Regions from separate parts of the Homo sapiens genome. Here all the other regions are linked to region 1. The links come from fine-mapping of genetic effects on gene expression. A gene starts in region 1. Each other region holds a variant in brackets. All regions are shown on one strand. Distances are between the middles of the regions.

Region 1 (5,000 bases):
AAAAATTCCTTCCCTGTAGTATCTATATATTTAAGCTTACAAACTTAGCTGCTTTTCTACACACAACTGCAATTCTATATTAAAGCTTTGCAACTGCCTTAATCTCTACACTCTTTTTTTTTTTTTTCCCGAGACGGAAAAAAAAGAGTCTCGCTCTGTTGCCAGGCTGGAGTGCAGTGGCGCGATCTCGGCTCATCGCAACCTCCGCCTCCCGGATTCAAGCGATTCTCCTGCCTCAGCCTCCCGAGTAGCTGGGACTACAGGCATGCGCCAACACGCCCGGCTAATTTTTGATATTTTAGTAGGGACGGGGTTTCGCCATGTTGGACAGGCTGGTCAAACTCCTGACCTCAGGTGATGCGCCCGCCTCGGCCTCCCAGAGTGCTGGGATCACAGGCATGAGGCACCGCGCCCGGCCTATGCTCAAATGTTTCTTGGGCTGTTAAAGTACTGCTCCTCGCAGAAGGGCTATGTTCCCGGGATCTATTCTCTTCCGTACATTCATTCCTATCTTCATTAGAAAACATCTGACCTAAATAAATCCCCCATCGATGCTAACATCTCCTTCCGCGCAATTTTTTACTTTCTAAGTCAAATCAAAACAATTATTTGAGCGACTGCTCCTGTCTGCCATTAAGTCTTTCTGGCACCACCCTCCAGACATATATACAATATTGCTTCTTTCCCTCAAATCAGAAAGGACTGCATAGTTCCGGATCAAGGCATAAATGATGAATCATGACTGTCCATCCCCACCAACATACTCTGCAACATTATAATCTATTTACCTCTGCTTTGAAAATGTATTCTTTAAAGCACTGCTTCCAACTAGCCACTTAGCCAGTAACATTTTTGAGAAAAACAAAACACAACCCAAAACAATGTATATATTCCTGGGGGGAAGAGTTTCTAACTCAAAATACGCAGATAATTGTTTATTATTCTAAGGAACACCCTTCTGAAGAGGCCTGCAGTCGGTGGGGCTGTTTCTAATTTAAAACTACTTAGGTGAACCAGGAAGAATGTACATTTAAGGAGATACTTTTAGACGCAGATGCCTCGCGCAAGCCTAAAGCTCGTGTGGTAAGCGACACGACTAGGGGTTAAAAGCGGCTGGTTGGTAGGCCCGGGGCCGTGGCTCACGCCTTGTAAACCCAGCACTTTGGGAGGCTGAGGCGGGCAGATCACCTAAGGTTAGGAGTTCGAGACCAGCCTGGCAAATATGGTGAAACGCCGTCTCTACTAAAAACACAAAAATTAGCCGGCGTAGTGGCGCGCGCGCGCTCTCAGCTACTCGAGAAGCTAAGGCAGGAGAATCACTTAAACCCAGGAGGCGGAGGTTGCAGTGAGCCAAGATTGCGCCACTGCACTCCAATCTGGGCACAGAGTGAGACTCCGTCTCAAATAAATAAATAAAAGCAGCTAGTTACTTCTCATTCTTTTAACGAAACAAACAAAACTGAACTTTGCTGGGTGACAGGAGTGAAGCAAAGGAAAAAACGATAGTACAAGTTCGATTCGAATTCTTCCAGTCTTATGATTCGATCATCGCAGGAATACTGATAAAAATCTGCGTTTTTTCCAGGTTGACAACTTTTGCGAGGCCAGACTAAACGAATTCAGCGCTCCAAGGAGACTCCTCTTTCCTCTGCTTTCTCACATTTACCTCTCGCCTTTTACCTCCCAAAGTCGAACCCTCCAGGATCGTACAGGCGGTATTCCCTCTACCAAGCATTCTACTCCTCTGCAGATGCTGCAATCTTTACACTGGAACTAACACTTAGCTGTGGTGTTCCCCGCTTTCTTTACTCGGAGTAGCCCAGGCTCTTCCTCTCCAATCCACAATTTCCCTCCAATCCCCAGTTTCCCTCTTGGGCGCCTGGACGCGTGCCCAGCCGCAGCCTGGGAGACACCGCGCGGCTGCACGCACCATGCAGATGTGGTCCCTTTCCCCTTCTTCTTCTCCTCCCCAAAGAGGTTTTGTGCTGTGACTGGCTTGCCCCGGTTACTTACTCCAAGGTGTAGGGGTGAAGAACGGAAGAGGACGAAATAACTAGCTGGAGGCAGCAGTGTCAGCCGATGCCGGTGCCACGGCTCGAAACACCGGCGCCTCTCGCGGTGCTAAAAGGATGGGCGCGCACCCTCCTTCCGGCATCCGTAGAACCCCCGCCTTTGACCTAGCTTCAGGAGATTACTTTCCGGGTCAGCGTGCGTTTAGGGCGAAGACGGAGTTGTAAACTTCTTAAAATTCCTCTCTCGACACTTCGGTAATTCCTCTTTCGAGACTAAAGCTCTTTTTGTATGCGTGTGTGTCAAGCGTATGCCCCGGGATTCTCCTCCGCTTCCTTTTCTCGGTCTTCCTTCTTGCTTTAGGGACCGGAAGAGTCCTTGAACCAAAATAGCTCGGCGGGCACTTCCGGGGCCGGCGCCCAGAGTTCCGGGAGGGTGCAGGCAGGAGAGGGAAAGGCAGCAGCGGCGGCAGCTGGAGGATGAAGAAGGAGCATGTGCTTCACTGCCAGTTCTCCGCGTGGTACCCGTTCTTCCGAGGCGTTACCATCAAGAGGTGAGATGGGAGGGGGTTCGCCCGGTCGACCGGCAAAAGGGAACTGCGACTTCTGAGCGAATCTTACTGCTATCCAAAAAAATGCAGGCCTTCTAGCGACTGCATGGGAGGGAGTGTGTCGAGAGGGAAGTACATCAGCAATTGTCTGCGTCCTGTTGCGAGCCAGCGAGTGTGCTGGCTAGGAGGGTCAGTTGTGGTTTTCAGTGAGGGTCGGAGGCGGGAGGAATAGTGGATTAACCTAGTTTAGGCTTGGGAGTTCACCACCACTACTTTTAGAATGGCCCCAGGCGCAAGGTGATCACTGCCTAAGTGCACTCGGAGAATTAATTGCTTTTCGCCATCACCCCAGAGGATGGAGATTGGGAAGGTGAAAGGATACGTAATTACAGTTAGATACGAGAACAAGTTCACAGATATGTCGTACAGCATGGAGGCTATAGTTAATGACGATATACGTATTCTTGAAAAACGGAGAGTGGATGTTAGTGTTCTCACCACAAAAATAACTATGTTAGGCAATGCATTTGTTAGCTAAATTTATTCCACAGTGTATATATACTTAAAAACATCAGGTAGGCGGCAAGTATTAATATATACAATTTCATCTCTCAGTTTTTTTAAAGGCGTTGATAGAAAATCTGGGCTTTGCACTTAACTGATTTTCTGAGCCAACATTTCAGTAATTGCTGATTCATTATATGATGGTTTCATTCAATAAAGATCGGATATGTACTTGAAAATGTGTAACTGGCTTAGAATGGTTAAAATGTATAAGAAAAGTTTCAAGTTCTTAAATAGTATTGGAATGTGTGGTAGAACCTTAGATTCATTGTACTTAACAATTTCGCTTGTTAGCTTTGTAAGAGTAAAATACTTAGGAAGGCTTATTTGTAATCAGCAAATAGACATATTAAGAAAGAAAATTGAGTGGTTTATGAATAGAATTTAAAATTTTAAAGAGACTTTTAAGTTGCAAAGTTTCGCTTGAAATTGTTTAAAATTTAGTAGATTTTCAAACGTAATAAGATTTGTTAGAAGAAATTAAAAGCCTGAAGAACTAGATTTTTTTTTTTTGAGACAGAGTTTTGTTCTGTCGCCCAAGCTGGAGTGCAGTGGCAGCGATCTTGGCTCACTGCAAGCTTCCCTTCCCGAGTTCACGCCATTCTCCTGCCTCAGCTTCCTGAGTAGCTGGGACTACAGGCGCCCGCCACCACCCCCGGCTAATTTTTTGTATTTTTAGTAGAGGCGGGGTTTTCACCGTGTTAGCCAGGATGGTCTCGATTGCCTGACCTCGTGATCCGCCCGCCTCGGCCTCCCAAAGTGCTGGGATTACAGGTGTGAGCCACCGCGCCCGGCCAGAACTAGATTTTTGAATGTGAAATTGTACCTTTGATAAATCAAATATTTATTTTTAAAACCGAAGTTTTTGCTCTGTCGCCCAAGCTGGAGTGCAGTGGCAGTGATCTTTTATTTATTTAAAAATAAATAAAAATACTTATTTTTAAAACCGAAGTAGCCCATGAATACTCTTTTTTGTGCAAAAAAACCATTTGTAATGTGCCAAAAAAAACTTCTTCCATAAATAAATGAGACATGTTATAAGTCATTGATGTTCTGTTAACTTCGGGAAAGCAGGCTGTAATCTTTTCCACTTTTTGAAGATGTATATGCCTCAAAATCAAAATAATACCAGCACTCTTAGGGATCTGTGGTAGGGCTTTTTGATAATTTATTATTTCAAGGTAAAAAACAAATTATCCCATAAGTTTTTAAGAGACTTCAGGTATGGCTTTGCCATCCTTAATTATGATTACCTGAAACAAATTAAGCTAAAGCATGCCTAGTTTAAGCAGCTTTATATCTCTGGTGATCAGTTGAATAGAAAGCCAGCAAGACACATCCAAAAGTATCATGAATTCTTAGCGGTAGGTGCTCACTGCCAACCCAAGAATGGTTTCCAGATCTTGACTCTACTTCTGCCCTCTATCTTTAGAAGGTGACCAAATGCTAGTCATCTTCTAGTTGGGTTTGCTGCATTTCCTGTGTTGCAGCAAATATCTGCTGGTCTCTGATTTCTTAAAGACACATAAATGTTGTGCTCACTCAGAATCCTTTTGAGCTTGTTGCTTTCATACTGTGATTTCCATCTGGTGGTTTGGATTTGGCTGGTTTTTGTTTACTACAAAGACCATTGTGGCAATAAGATGAACCGCAGTAATCTTATTATTCTGATTTCTTGTCTACTGCTACCAAATGTACATCATTAACATTTTCTACTTTATATTAAAAGAAAGACAATTCCAAAATTAATCAAGTGTAGAGATTTTTCTCTCTGCTTATAGTTGGTCTTTTAAAATGATGCCTTTTTTGGTGTTTTTTTTTTAGTGTCATTCTTCCACTTCCTCAGAATGTGAAGGATTATTTACTCGATGATGGA
Region 2 (5,262 bases), 53 kb after region 1:
CGATTTTAGTGAAGTTGACGCTCAAGAGCAGGTACAACATTTTTAAGACAGATACAATGTAAACCTTTCCAGTCTACTGACTGACTGCTTGTTCTTCAGACGCATAGGTAGGCGGCAATGGCCAGGACCCTTGGGAAGCGCAGAGTGTAACACAGCTTTACTAATAGCTAACCTGCCCATGGTGGTGGTCAAAGAAGGGGGCCCCACTTAACTTTATATACAGAAGTCAGGATCATCTGATCAGTTTTTTTAGTTCTTTTTCTGAGCTTCTTCTGTCACACCCACCTGGAGGAATCTTGGTCCCAGATCAGCTCATGCATCTGTTCCTTCTGACCCCAGCCCCAGCTGCTGAGGCCGACAGAGAAGTTACACACGTGCAGCCCAGCGGATTCCTGTCAGCTTTCTCCTCCATTTCCACGGTGACTGGCTCACGCCTTGATGCTTCTCAGTCTCCCATCATTCCTTCCTTCCTCTCAGCAGATGATTTAACTTGCTGTTTCCCGGAAAAGGGAACCCACTGATGAGAATTCCCTCAGTTGATTTCTCATCACACCTACAAGCTTGTCCGTCCCTTCCTGAGTCTAATCTCCCCCCTCCATACACTTGTGTCCCCCTCTGTCATCTCCCCACTCTGGACACTGTGTCCTCCTCTGTCACCTCCCCCCTCAGTACACTGTGTCTTCCTCTCTCACCTCCCCCTCAGGACACTGTGTCCTCCTCTCTCTCACCTCCCCCTCAGGACACTGTCCTCCTCTCTCACCTCCCACTCTGGACACTGTGTCCTCCTCTCTCACCGCCCACTCCGGACACTGTGTCCTCCTCTCTCTCACCTCCCCCTCAGGACACTGTCCTCCTCTCTCACCTCCCACTCCAGACACTGTGTCCTCCTCTCTCTCACCTCCCCCTCAGGGCACCGTGTCCCCCTCTCTCACCTCCCCCTCAGGACACTGTCCTCCTCTCTCACCTCCCACTCTGGACACTGTGTCCTCCTCTCTCTCACCTCCCCCTCAGGACACTGTCCTCCTCTCTCACCTCCCACTCCGGACACTGTGTCCTCCTCTCTCACCTCCCCCTCAGGACACTGTGTCCTCCTCTCTCACCTCCCCCTAAGGACACTGTCCTCTTCTCGCACCTCCCACTCTGGACACTGTGTCCTCCTCTCTCACCTCCCACTCCGGACACTGTGTCCTCCTCTCTCACCTCCCCCTCAGGACACCGTGTCCCCCTCTCTCACCTCCCCCTCAGGACACTGTGTCCTCCTCTCTTACCTCCCCCTCAGGACACTGTGTCCTCCTCCTCTTTCTCCAGATGCCCTCTGCTCTTTTTGCAATTCTTCCTCTCTATCAACTCTGTCCATCCGGATTTAGTCATGCTCAGATACCTCCCATCCGAAAAAAACAAAACATTGTTCAACCCGGTTTCTTCACCCAGCCACTCTCTCCTTTCCTGCCAGCTTCACAGCCAGACTTTCCTGAAACAACTTTGTAGTGCTGTTTTCTGCCCATAAAAGTAACATGTCCAAGACGGGCGGATCAGGAAGTCAGGGTATCGAGACCATCCTGGCTAACACGGTGAAAACCTGTCTCTACTAAAAATACAAAAAAAAAATTAGCCGGGCGTGGTGGCGGGCGCCTGTAGTCCCAGCTACTTGGGAGGCTGCGGCAGGAGAATGGCATGAATCCGGGAGGCAGAGCTTGCAGTGAGCCGAGATTGTGCCACTGCACTCCAGCCTGGGCGACAGGGCAAGACTGTCTCAAAAAAAAAAAAGTAACGTGCTCATTCTTAAAGAAAATTATAAAATCACTTATGATTTGAGAACCTTGAGAACCAGTGTTTATATTTTGATACATAACGTGCATTTAAACACATGCATAGACCTTTGTAAATAAATGAAATCATACTACATACTCAATTACATGTCCTGAGATTTTCACAGTGTTCTCTTGTGAGCATTTTATATCTTTTAAAAAATAGTTTTGGGCCAGACGTAGTGGCTCACACCTGTAATCCCAGCACTTTGGGAGGCCGAGGCTGGTGGATCACCTGAGGTCAGGAGTTCGAGACCAGCCTGGCCAACATGGTGAAACCCCGTCTCTACTAAAAATACAAAAAATTAGCTGGGCATGGTGGCAGATGCCTGTAATCCCAGCTACTTGGGAGGCTGAGGCAGGAGAATTGCTTGAACCTGGAAGGCGGATGTTGCAGCAGTGAGCCAAGATCACGCCATTGCACTCCAGCCTGGGTGACAGAGCGGGACTCCGTCTCAAAAAAAAAACAGGCCAGGTGCGGTGGCTCACACCTGTAATCCCAGTACTTTGGGAGGCTGAGGCAGGTGGATCACCTGAGGTTGGGAGTT[C/T]GAGACCATCCTGATCAACGTGGAGAAACCCCGTCTCTACTAAAAGTAAAAAAATTAGCCAGGCATGGTGGTGCATGCCTGTAATCCCAGCCACTCGGGAGGCTGAGGCAGGAGAATCGCTTGAACCTGGGAGGTGGAGGTTGCGATGAGCTGAGATTGCTCCATTGCATCCAGCCTGGGCAACAAGAGTAAAACTTCGTCTAAAAAAAAAAAATTAGTTTTGGCAGCTGGGCATGGTGGTTCATGCCTGTAATCCCAGCACTTTGGGAGGCCGAGGCAGGCAGATCACCTGAGGTCAGGAGTTTGAGACCAGCCTGGCCAACATAGTGAAATCCCTATCTCTACTAAAAATACAAAAATTAGCCGGACGTGGTGACGCGCGCCTGTAGTCCCAGCTACTTGGGAAGCTGAGGTGGGAGAATCACTTGAACCTGGGAGGCAGAGGTTGCAGTGAGCAACAGAGACCTGGGCAACAGAGATCGTGCCCCTGCACTCCAGTCTGAGAACAGAGCGAGACTTTGCCTCAAAAAAAAAAAAAAAAATAGTTTGGCATGGGTGCAACAGCCCACCTAGCCTATAATCTTAACACTTTGGGAGGCCAAGGCAGGAGGATTGCTTCAGCTCAGGAGTTCAAGACCAGCCTGGGCAACATACTGAGATATTTTCTGTACTAAAATTTAAAAAACTCAGCTGGGCGTGGTGGCGCATGCCTATAGTCCCAGCTACTTGGGAGGCTGAAGTGCGAGGTTCACCTGAGCCCAGGAGGTCGAGGCTGCAGTGAGCCACTGCACTCCAGCTGGAATTACAGACGTGAGCCACCGTGCCCGGCTCATTTTAACTTAAGCATCTTCCTTTCTCCTCATCAAGTACAGAGGAAAACATGGAGTTGAAATTGTTTTGCTAGGTTCTTTTTTAGTTCACAGAATAGGCCTAAAAATAAATGATTGATATTCTTTCTCCTTTTTCTTCTTTGTACAGGATTCCCCAGCTTTCCGTTGCACAAACAGTGAAGTGACAGTCCAGCCCAGCCCCTATTTGAGTTACCGGCTACCCAAGGACTTTGTAGACCTCTCTACTGGGGAGGACGCTCACAAGCTAATAGACTTCCTTAAGCTGGTAAAGTCTATGTGCATTTAGTATGCTGGCCATCTTTTCAAATAGACCTTCAAATTGGCTTTTATATAATATTTCATTGGAATCCTGTATCACCTAGACTTTGATGGTTATGAATGGAACCAAGTTACTGAGTTAGAGCATTTTCTAATTAAATATGAAATAGGAGCTGAAGGCATAATTTATTGATTAGAATGACAGAAAATGTTTTTATGCTGTACATGCCTTTTGAACATTTTTCAAAATACTTGTAACTTTGAAGAAAGTGTGTATATTGTTAGAAGGCTGTAAGGAGAGCAGGTCTCTGCTCTGGTGGTGATTTTACTCAAGAGGGGATGTGAATATTTATATTTTTGTGTGGATTTCTGTGTAGGAGTTTTTGTATGTATGGAAGAAAGAGAAGAAAATACTCAAATACCTGAGGATAATTTGCTCAGGAGTCAAAGTGATAAACTAGTTTAATGAATTAAAGCATGGTTTTCCATGACAATTTTTAATTACATCCTTTGCCAAGACCTCTAGAAAATTACACCTGCTGAGCAGATATCCCAAGGAGCATGTGCTATTTTAACATCCCCTTGGTTTTCTTTGACAGAAGAGAAATCAGCAGGAGGACGACTGATGAGCGTACTGGAACTGGAGAAGAGGAGGCCCCGCCCCACCGCTCCGGGAGCTGCTCATCAGCCGCAACTTCCTGCCGACCCTGATGCGGGTGGGCCGAGCAGTGTGGACATCAGCCACTTTTTATATTCATGTACATTCACCTGGGGAAAAAAACGGAGGGACTTTGCTACTTGTAAAAATAACATAATAAATAGATCTTAAACATAGGAAAACCATACTGTTCTGATAATAAAATGCTTTCTATGAAATACGTTGCTTTTCTACCGAGTCATTATTTTATTTATTTATTTTAATTTTAATTTTTTGAGACAGTCTCGCTGTGTCGCCCATGCTGGAGTGCACTGGTGCGATCTCGGCTCACTGCAACCTCCACCTCCTGGTTCAAGCGATTCTCCTGCCTCAGGCTCCCAAGTAGCTGGGATTACAGGTGCATGCCACCACACCCAGCTGAGTTTTATATTTTTAGTAGAGGTAGGGTCTCACCGTGTTGGCCAGGCTGGTCTGGAACTCCTGATCCTCAAGTGATTTGCCCACCTTGGCCTCCCAAAGTGCTGGGATTATAGGTGTGAGCCACCACGCCCGCCCTGTTTTGTTTAGGGACAGTCTTGTTCTGTTGCCCAGTCTGGGGTGCAGTGGCACAATCACAGCTCACTGCAGCCTCAATCTCCTGGACTCAGGCAGTCCTGCCTCAGCCTCCTGAGTAACTGGGACTACAGGTGCACACCACCACGCCCAGCTGATTTTTGTATTTTTTTGTAGAGATGGGGTTTTGCCATGTGGCGTTTTTAAAAGGCCACCATTTTTAAGTGATGATATCAATTGTGCCTAATTTACCGAGGCTTTATGATGTGCCAGACATTCTACTAAGAGCTCTTTCTGTATTAGTTGACATCACCAAGCAATTTGAAGGATACAGACATCACAATTTCCCAGGGTACCTGCCCGACGTGGTATCCGGTGGTAATCTTCGTCCTCAGTACTTGATCTTTGTATTCAGTACATCAGATGCCCTTTTTTTCTTTTTTTTAAGTAGTAGAGATGGGGTTTCCCTGTGTTGCCCATACTGATCTCAAACTCCTGGCCTTAAGCAATCCTCCTGCGTCAGCCTTCCAAACTGCTAGGATTACAGGTGTGAGCCACTGTGTCTGGCCTCAATTGCCATTTGTGGG
Region 3 (5,000 bases), 70 kb before region 1:
GCTACTTGGGAGGCTGAGGCAGGAGAATCACTTGATCTCGGGAGGCGGAGGTTGCAGTGAGCCGAGATTGCACCACTGTACTCCAGCCTGGGTGACAGAGCGGGACTCTGTCTCAAAAAATAAAAGGTTACTTTAAATCTCTCCGAATTTCTTTTGAGACAGAGTCTCACTTTGTCGCCCAGGCTGGAGTGGTGCGATCTCAGCTCACTGCAACCTCCACCTCCTGGGTTCAAAAGATTTTCCTGCCTCAGCCTCCCGAGTAGCTGGGACTACAGGTACGTGCCACAGCCAGTTTTTTGTATTTTTAGCAGAGATGGCGTTTCACCATGTTAGCTAGGATGGCCTTGATCTCCTGACCTCATGATCCGCCCACCTTGGCCTCCCAAAGTGCTGGGTTTACAGGCGTGAGCCACTGTGACTGGTGGATCTCTCCAAATTTCTAATTTTACACCTCACAGTCTGTTCATGGTTTCTTTTTATGTCTTCTCTAACTCGAGTCATGAAATGTGTCTTCTGTTGGCTTAACCTTTCTACTCTCAATCACTACTGCAACATGGATCAGCATTTTACATTCCCTTGCAGGGAGGGACCATTTGAGGAATTCCAAATCAAATACTCATTACTTTTTTTCCCTTAAAAATTTAGTAGGCCAGGCGTGGTGGCTCATGCTTGTAATCCCGGCACTTTGGGAGGCTAAGGTGGGCAGATCACCTGAGGTCAGGAGTTTGAGACCAGTGTGGCCAACCTGGTGAAAGCCTGTTTCTACTAAAAAATACAAAGATCAGCCAGGCGTTGTTGCGCATGCTTGTAGTCCCAGCTACTTGAGAGGCTGAGGCAGGAAATCACTTGAACTACTCCAGCATGGGCAACAGAGCAAGACTCCATCTCAAAAAAAAAAAAAAAAAGTGTAAAAGGGATAGTATTTTTATTGTCAACCAAGGAATTATTAAAAAATAATAAAATTTCAAAGGTAATATAGTCAGTCTAAAGATGTCTAAGCTTCATAGTATTTTTCCCAAATAGCATGTGTATGCAAGACACAGAAAAGCTAAGCAAAATAGTTATTATTCTCACTAAAAAATTTTTTATTTTACTAAGAATAATTTGTCATTTCAGACAAAACTAACATTTTTCCATGGTTGCTACTATTTCTACTTCTTGAATACCCAATTTAAGGTTTAGTCCTCATTGAACATTAAAATGGCATAGATAGATATAAATAATAGATATAAATAAGATACAAGTATAAAGTTACTAAGGTTTTCTTTTTTTCTTTTGAGACCAAATCTCGCTCTGTGGCCCAGGCTGGAGGGCAGTGGTGCGATCCTGGCTCACTGCAACCTCCGCCTTTCTAGTTCAAGTGATTCTGTGTCAGCGTTAGGCCGCTTTGGCCTCTTAAAGTGCTGAGATTACAGGCGTGAGCCACCACACCTGGCCCTTTTACAAAATTGAAGAAATGAAAGGGTTACCCCGCCCAAAAAAAAAAAAAAAAAGATTACACTGGAAGGAAGTCACAGATTAAGGATCAAGACTGTTGAGTCTTTAGGTTCCAAAAGCTTCACCTACATTTTTCTTATATGTATTTGGATATTAAAGAAAATAAGTTACATATACACCATGGAATATTATTCAGCCATTTAAAAAAAATAAAATCTTGTCATTTGTAGCAACATGGATGGAACTGGAAGTCATCATGTTACGTGAAGTAAGTCAAGCACAGAAAGACAAAACTTGGATATTCTCACTCACATGGGAGCTTAAAAAGTGGATTTTGGCCAGGCGCGGTAGCTCATGCCTGTAATCCCAGCCCCTTGGGAGGCCAAGGCGGGTGGATCACCTGAGCTCAGGAGTTTGAGACCAGCCTGGCCAAGAGGGTGAAACCCTGTCTCTACTAAAAATACAAAAAATTAGCCGGGCGTGGTAGCGGATGCCTGTAAATCCCAGCTACTGGGGAGGCTGAGGCAGGAGAATTGCTTGAACCCAGGAGGCAGAGGTT[G/A]CAGTGAGCTGAGATCATGCCATTTCACTCCAGCCAAGGTGACAAGAGCAAGACTCCATCTCAAAAAAAAAAAAAAAAAAGTGGATCTCATGAAGATAGAGAGTAGATCGGTGGTATCAGAGGTCGGGAGGGGAAGGGGTGGGGTGATGAAAAGAAGTAGATTAATGGGTACAAATATATGGTTGGATAGAAGAAATAAGACCTACTGTTAGATGGATCGGTAGGTGACCATAGTTTAATCAGTAGGTGACCATAGTTTACAATATCTACTATACATTGTGAAATAGCTAGAGGAGAATTCAAATGGTTCTATCATAAAGAAAAGACAAATATTTAAGGTGATGGATATCCCAAATACACCAATTTGATATTTACAAATTATATGAATGTATTAAATTATCACATGCACCTTGAAAGTATGTACATCTAGCATTCATCAATTAAAAAACCCCAAAAGCTCTTACTCTATAGAAATAGTAATTCATTGTCATTTTATTTAAATCTGATAAAGCACAATCTAAAGCAGACTCCTTTCCTCACTGCTAATTGCAATTTTATTTATTTATTTATTTATTTAGAGACGGAGTCTCACTCTGTCCCCCAGGCTGGAGTGCACTGGCACGATTACGGCTCACTGCAGCCGCGAATTCCTGGGCTCAAGTGATCGTCCCATCTCAGCCTCCCAAGTAGCTAGAAGTAACGTGCCTGCCACTATGCCCTGCTAATTAAACAAATTTTTTTTCTTGTAGAGACGACGTCTTGCTATATTGCCCAGGCTGGTCACAAACTCCTGGCCTTAAATGATTTTCCCGCCTTGTCCTCCCAAAGTGCTGGGATTACAGGCATGAGCCACCACACCCAGTCTAATTTTTAAAAATTATTTAAGTCAGACCAGTGGCGTGTACCTGTAGTCCCAGCAACTCCAGAGGCTTAGGTGAGAAGATCCTTTGCGCCAAGGACTTTGAGGCTGCAGTGAGCTATGATCTCACCACTGCACTCCAGCTTGGGTGACAGAGTGAGATCCATACTGTGAAAAATAATAATACATAAAAAATTAAACAGGGCGCACAGTGGCCCATGCCTGTAATCCCAGCTCTTTGGGAGGATAAGGAAGGCAGAGTGCTTGAACTGGGGAGGCATAGGTTGCAATGAGCCGATACAGTGCCACTTCACTTCAGCCTGGGTGACAGAGTGAGACCCTGTCTCAAGAAAAAAAAAAAGTATTTATATTACTTTAGTGTCGTGTCCCTGTTTTCTTTGACTCATATGGGGATCCAGCTAAAATTGAACTGAACACCAGAAATGACCTTTTAAGAGTAAAATGGTATTTCATCAATAAATACTTTATTGGACATATAGTCCCTATATTACATTTTTATGGACCTTAGAAATACACAGAAGTAAAAGATAAAATGGGTTGCCCACTGTCCTCAATGGGCTAACAATCTATTTGAGAAGACAAAGCATTTAATACATAGAGACATTTTCTTGTTGGATGTGCTAAAACAATGAAAGATCAAGGAGGTAGACTTGAGAGTCTGGATGGATGTAGATTAGGTGGCACATTGCAGTTAAACAAGGAAAAGCCCTAGGTGGCATGGCATGTAGTGGTAGAAAGAATGGTGGAAGGGGCCAGGAGCAGTGGCTCATGTGTAATCCCAGCACTTTGGGAGGCTAAGGCAGGCAGATCACTTGAGGTCAGCAGTTCAAGACCAGCCTGGCCAACATGGTGAAACCCCGTCTCTACTAAAAATACAAACTTAGCCAGGCAGGGTGGCATGTGCCTGTAATCTGAGCTGCTCAGGAGGCTGAGGCATGAGAATCACTGGAACCTGGGAGGTGGAGGTTGCAGTGAGTTGAGATTGGCCACTGCACTCCAGCCCAGTGACAGAGCGAGACTCTGTCTCAAAGAGAAAAAAAAGAATGGTGGAAGGGTAATTCACAAAGTTTATCCAGAGTGTCAAAGCTCATTCCCAGGCTCTTGAACCATGGAACTATCCCAGAAATAGGCAGTAAAAAGAGGCACAGGATACTCTTCACCTTCTGTGATATTTTCAATTTAGTGCATCTTCCCCCTGCCCCCCCCCACCCCCCGCCGCTTGCTGGAGTACAGTGGTGCGATCTGAGCTCACTGCAACGTCTACCTCCAGGGCTCAAGCCAGCCTCCTGAGGCCTCCTGAAAAGCTGGGAAAACAGGCGCAAACCACCATGCCCGGCTGATTTTTGTTTTTTTTACCTTTCATAGAGACGTGGTCTCACTGTGTTGCCCAGGCTGGAATTTAGTGCATCTTTATTGAAAGGATATTGCATTCATGAAATTAGCTCATAATTGAGTGTCAAAACTGCACTTAAGTCAATCATTTTGTAGGCTATTGTACATAGTAGAAAAAGTAAGAACGACCACTCTATCTAGAAGTTTACTGCATATCAGGGGAGATTAGGCAAGTATAAAAATGACTAATACAAAGTAGAGTGAGGTAAGGATGAATTAACAGGATGGGAGATTATTACTGTGGCAGATTGGATTTTCCAAAAATTCCCACAGCGGTATTTTGAATCCCACATGTTCTTCCAGAATCTTGCCACAATCTCCCCTAGAGGTGGTGTCCCTAGGACTTGTGGCTGCCCCTACAGACACAATGCAGTAAAAGATGCTGGTTCAGTTCTGAGGACATCCCTTGGACCCCAGCTGCCACGCTGTGAGGAAGCCCAGGCCGCTTGGAGAAGCCATCTGGAGGTGCTGGAGCTGACACCAGCACCCAATGCCAGACTGGGGAATGAGGGAGCCACCTGATCATTCCAGTCCCCAGCCCTGGGGCTGTCCCAGCTGACCTCAAGTACAGCAGAGACTCATGCAAGCTGGACCTAAATTGCACGCCCCCCTGAAATATATAATTTATTTCATGAACATAGATCTGAACATTAGAACAGATTATTGAGGCCGGTTTTGGTGGCCCATGCCTGTAATCCCAGCACTTGGGGAGGCTGAGACAGCTGGATTGCT
Region 4 (5,000 bases), 50 kb before region 1:
AGTGTGTGAGCCAATCGGGGAGCTCAGCTGGAGCTGAGCCTGAAGCCTCAAGCAGCATTGTTCATCTGGGAAATTGTGGCTGAGGATGCTGGACAGTGAGAGTAGCAAGGGGTACAACCAGTCGTGAGGTTTCTTACATTTAGGAACAGTGGTTGCCTCTTTTTTGGAAACACTTTTTTCAGGCGATCCTCCCACTTCAGCCTCCTGAGTAGCTGGGACTACTGGTGCGTGCCACAATGCCTGGCTAATTTTTGTAGTTTTGTAGAGGTGAGGTTTTGCCATGTTGCCTAGGCTGGTCTTGAACTCCTGGGTTCATGCCATCCTCCCTCAAAGTGCTGGGATTACAGGTGTGAGCCACTGCACCCAGCCTGGACATACTTTAAATCGATGGCAGATTTTTTTTTGATGTTTTTAGGTTATAAAGGTAATATTGATTTATTATTTTAAAAATGCACTAGCAATTTATATACAGATTTATATGAAGCTGAAAAGAAAAGTGTCACTTCTGAGGGGAGCTCTGGAGGATTTGGTAGATTGGTGACTATCAATTGAGGCCTTTTCTTTGCACATACATTCACTTACATATATCTATATACTTCTTATAACTGAAAAGTAAGATGTCCTGTATATACTATTCTGCTACTTTGTTTACTTAATATCTTACATGAGCTATTAATGGCCATGTTATTATTCCATTATAAGGATACGCTGTGATTTATTTGATCATTCATTCAACAAATACTTACTGAGTTCATATTGTGTGTCAGCCTTTGTGCAAGGTGCCGAGATTAGAGCAGTGAACAAGACAATGTCCCAGTTGTCATGGAGTTGATATTTGCTGTTTGGGGAGGTACCTGGGGTGGGGAAGGTGCTCTAGGAAGGTGATCTTTGAAGACAGCTGCAGGAAGTGAGAGAGGAGGCCACATGAAGACCTGAGGGAGGCATATTCTAGGGAAGAGCCAGTGCAAAGGCCCTGAGGTGAGCCTGTGCTTGGTGTGTTCAAAGATCATTGAGGAGGGGCCAGGCGCAGGGGCTCATGCCTGTGATCCCAACACTTTGGGAGGCTGAAGCGGGAAGATCACTTGAGGTCAGGAGTCCAGACCAGCCTAGGCAACAAAGTGAGACCCCATCTCTACTAAAATCACAAAAATTAGCCAGGTGTGGTCGTGTGTACTGTGGTCCCAGCTACTTGGGAGGCTGAGGTGGGAGGATGGCTTGAGCCTGGGAGGAAGAGATTGCAGTGAGCCGAGATCACGCCACTGCACTCTAGCCGGGGCGACACAACCAGACCCTGTCTCAAAAAAAAAAGGAACATTGAGGAGGTGAGTGTGGGGTGGAAGAAATGAAAGAAGAGGGAGGAGTGATGGGACCTGATGTTGCAGATGTATCTAAGTCAGATCATGAAGGGCTTGGAGACCGTTGGATGGAGCACATTTTAAGGAAGATGGGAAACTTCTGCAGGCCACTAGGTTCCTTTCTTGTCATATATTACGTTTTTTTCCCCCCGATTTTATATCATTATAAAGAATGCTACAATGAAGGCTATCACACCGTTCTGTAACTTTTTGATAGAATGAATTTCTAGAAGTTCAACTGTTGGGTCACAAGATAGGCATACTGAAATTTTTGATAGAGAAAGCTAAATTATCTTCCAAAACAGTTGTTTGATTTTACACTCTCAGCGACAGTATATGAGAATGACCATTTCTCTTTCAACAGTGGATATTATTAGTATTTTAGTCTTTGTTAGTCAGAGAGGTAAAAGCTGGCATCAGTTATTTAATTTTGATTTCTTTATAGATTGGTGAGTTTGAACATTGTTTTCTGTTTTTATGGAACATTTGTATTTCTTCTATAAGTGGAGTTTTATTAGTGTGTTAGATTCCTTTTGTTGTAAGTAATAGGAAACTAGATGCTTTCGTAGTCCGTAGATGTGATGATTGGATCTTCACGCTCGTGTGTGAGATGTGCCTCTCTCCAGCCTTGTTAGGATGTTGGAACATTACCCATCTGACATGAAAAGAAAAAAGAAAAAACATTGTTTTAAATAAAGGAGAAAAATTAAGGAATAGGAAATCACTGACTAGCTTAAACAGAAACATGATACTTGCTGGAAGGATACTGGTTATTTTTTGGAATCTACAGTGGAGATGAACAGCTAAGCCCCAGGAAGAAGGGGAGCAAGGCCAGCCCTTAGGCCTCAGCAGCAGGGATTGGTGAACATTTTCCATTCTCTGTGCGATTCAGCTCCACACTCCCAGATTTATTTTATTTTATTTTATTTTTTTAAACCAAATTTCGCTCTTGTTGCCCAGGCTGGAGTGCAATGGTGCGATCTTGGCTCACTGCAACCTCCACTTCTCAGGTTCAAGCGATTTTCCTGCCTCAGCCTCCTGAATAGCTGGGATTACAGGCACAAGCCACCATGCGCCACTAATTTTTTTATTTTTAGTAGAGATGGGGTTTCACCATATTGGCCAGGCTGGTGAATTCCTGACCTCAGGTGATCCACCCACCTTGGCCTCCCAAAGTGCTGGGATTACAGGTTTGAGTCACTGTGCCTGGCCCCAGATTATTTGTTTAAAATTCCAGATGCCCAGGGTTCTCACCAGGCAGGATCAGCTTCAGTTAGAGTTCCAGGGTTGCACAGTACAGGTTTGGATGCTGGGGGCCTACTCCTGTGCTGCATTTTCCTGAGAAAGCTTCAGCAGGAGCAGACA[C/T]ATCATGTATCTGCTGTTTCCTTTTTAAATTGTTTTTTTCCTTTTTTTTTTGTTTTATTTTTTTTGAGACGGAGTCTCGCTCTGTCACCCAGGCTGGAGTGCAGTGGCGCGATGTCAGCTCACTGCAAGCTCCGCCTCCCGGGTTCACACCATTCTCCTGCCTCAGCCTCCTGAGTAGCTGGGACTACAGGTGCCCGCCACCACGCCCTGCTAATTTTTTGTATTTTTTAGTACAGGTGGGGTTTCACCATGTTAGCCAGGATGGTCTTGATCTCCTGACCTTGTGATCCGCCCGCCTCAGCCTCCCAAAGTGCTGGGATTACAGGTGTGAGCCACCGCGCCCAGCCAGTTTGTTCACTTTTTAATTGATTTGTAAGAGCTCTTTGCACATGAGAGATAAGAACTTTTTGTCATTTGTGTTTAATTTTTTTTTATTCTTTTGGGACAGGCTCTTGCTCTGTTGCCCAGGCTGGAGTGCAGTGGTGCAAACAGCTCACTGCAGCCTTGACCTCTTGGGCCAAGTGATACTCCTGCCTTAGCCTCCCATGTAGCTGGGACCACAACCGGGCACCACCATGTCTGACTAGTATTTTAATTTTTTGTAGAGACAGCATCTCACTTTGTTGCCTAGGCTGCTCTCAAACTCCTGGCCTCAAGTGATCTGCCTGCCTCAGCTTCCTAAAGTGTTGGGATGACAGGCGTGAGCCACCATGTCTGCCTTAATAGTTTTATTTTAACCATTATGCTGCCTTTTGCCACGTGGAAGTTTTGTAGTTGTATCTAATCATATCTTCCATCTTTTCCTTTGTGGCTTCTAGATTTTTTGCCATGCTTAGAAAGACTTTCTTGCCCAAGATGATAAGCTACTCACCCATATTTCCTTCTAGTATTTTTGTCATTTATCCTTTATGTTTAAATTTTCTATACATGGAGGCTGGGCACAGTGGCTCATGCCTGTAATCCCTGCACTTTGGGAGGCCGAGGAGGGCAGATTACTTGAGGTCAGGAATTTGAGACCTGACTGGCCAATGTAGTGAAACCCCATCTCTACCAAAAATACAGAAATTAGCTGGGCATGGTGGCTTACGCCAGTAATCTCAGGTACTCGGGAGGCTGAGGCAGGAGAATCGCTTGAATCCAGGAGGTGGAGGTTGCAGTGAGCCAAGATCGTGCCATTGTACTCCAGCCTGGGTGACAGTGAGACTCTGTCTAAAAAAAAAAAAAAAAAAATTTCTATACATGTAGCATTTGTTTTGATGTGAGGCATGAGGCATGAGGTAAGGAATCTAGGTTTAATTTCCTAAAAATGGCCAATTTTTTTGCCAAGGTCCATTTTTTTCTCTACTGATTTGAAATGCCATATTTCTTATATCAAATATTCATTAAAGCTTGATTAAGTCTATTTCTGGACTAGAGCTATTTGCAATAATAAATTTTGGTGATCTAACTTAAGAAATCTATCTAATATCTTTTTTTTTTTTTTTGAGACAGAGTCTCGCTCTGTCACCCAGGCTGAAGTAAGTGCAGTGGCACGATCTCGGCTCACTGCAACCTCTGCCTCCCAGGTTCAAGTGAGTCTTCTGCCTCAGCTTCCCGAGTAGCTGGGACTACAGGCGCCCACCACCATGCCCAGCTAATTTTTGTATTTTTAGTAGAGACGGGGTTTCACCATATTGGCCAGGCTGGTCTCAAACTCCTGACCTCATGATCCTCCCACCTCGTCCTCCCAAAGTGCTGGGATTACAGGCGTGAGCCACCATGCCCGGCCATTTTTTTTTTTTTTTTTTTTTTTAAGACAGAATTTCGCTCTTGTTGCCCAGGCTGGAGTGCAATGGCGGGATCTTGGCTCACCGCAACCTCCACCTCCCGGGTTCAAGCAATTCACCTGCCTCAGCCTCCCAAGTAGCTGGGATTACAGGCATGCACCATCATGCCCGGATACTTTTGTATTTTTATTAGAAATGGGGTTTTTCCATGTTGGTCAGGCTGGTCTCGAACTCCTGACCTTAGGTGATCTGCCCGCCTTGGCCTCCCAAAGTGCTGGGATTACAGGTATGAGCCACCACACCCGGCTTTTTTTTTTTCTTTGAGATGGAGTCTCACTCTTTCGCCAGGTTGGAATGCAGTGGTGCGATCTTGGTTCACTGCAACCTCCAACTCCTCGGTTCAAGGGATTCTCCTGCCTCAGCCTCCCGAGTAGCTGGGACTACAGGCGCACGCCACCACACCTGGCCAATTTTTGTATTTTCAGTAGAGACGGCCAGGATGGTCTCAATCTCC

Direction of the effects. Positions count from the first base shown, and alleles are read on the strand shown. Sizes are in standard deviations (SD) of each study's normalised expression. Not every link is listed here.
For the expression in testis of the gene that starts at base 2,432 in region 1, C is the high allele of the variant in region 4 and T is the other (small effect, 0.35 SD a copy in GTEx).

The links.
Region 2: its variant is fine-mapped to the expression of CDC123 in whole blood (TOPMed, PIP above 0.99).
Region 3: its variant is fine-mapped to the expression of CDC123 in whole blood (TOPMed, PIP above 0.99).
Region 4: its variant is fine-mapped to the expression of CDC123 in testis (GTEx, PIP 0.94).

The regions. Positions count from the first base shown.
Region 1 is chr10:12,193,757-12,198,756 of GRCh38, forward strand. CDC123 (cell division cycle 123) reads left to right here and starts at 2,432. Exons shown (of 13, transcript NM_006023.3): 1 at 2,432-2,563; 2 at 4,949-5,000. The coding sequence starts at 2,490. It overlaps NUDT5 (nudix hydrolase 5), which reads right to left and starts at 2,135. Exons shown (of 10, transcript NM_014142.4): 1 at 2,014-2,135. RefSeq lists an enhancer at 2,179-2,448.
Region 2 is chr10:12,246,247-12,251,508 of GRCh38, forward strand. CDC123 (cell division cycle 123) reads left to right here. Exons shown (of 13, transcript NM_006023.3): 11 at 1-31; 12 at 3,335-3,472; 13 at 4,065-4,343. The coding sequence ends at 4,091. Among named protein-coding and RNA genes, the nearest start is that of CDC123, 53 kb to the left of the region's middle. The variant C/T (reference allele first, on the strand shown) is at 2,357.
Region 3 is chr10:12,123,484-12,128,483 of GRCh38, forward strand. No RefSeq gene overlaps it. Among named protein-coding and RNA genes, the nearest start is that of SEC61A2, 3.7 kb to the right of the region's middle. The variant G/A (reference allele first, on the strand shown) is at 1,997.
Region 4 is chr10:12,143,751-12,148,750 of GRCh38, forward strand. All of the region lies in intron 4 of SEC61A2 (SEC61 translocon subunit alpha 2), which reads left to right. It overlaps LOC124902579 (small nucleolar RNA U13), which reads left to right and starts at 1,913; the gene lies at 1,913-2,016. The variant C/T (reference allele first, on the strand shown) is at 2,721.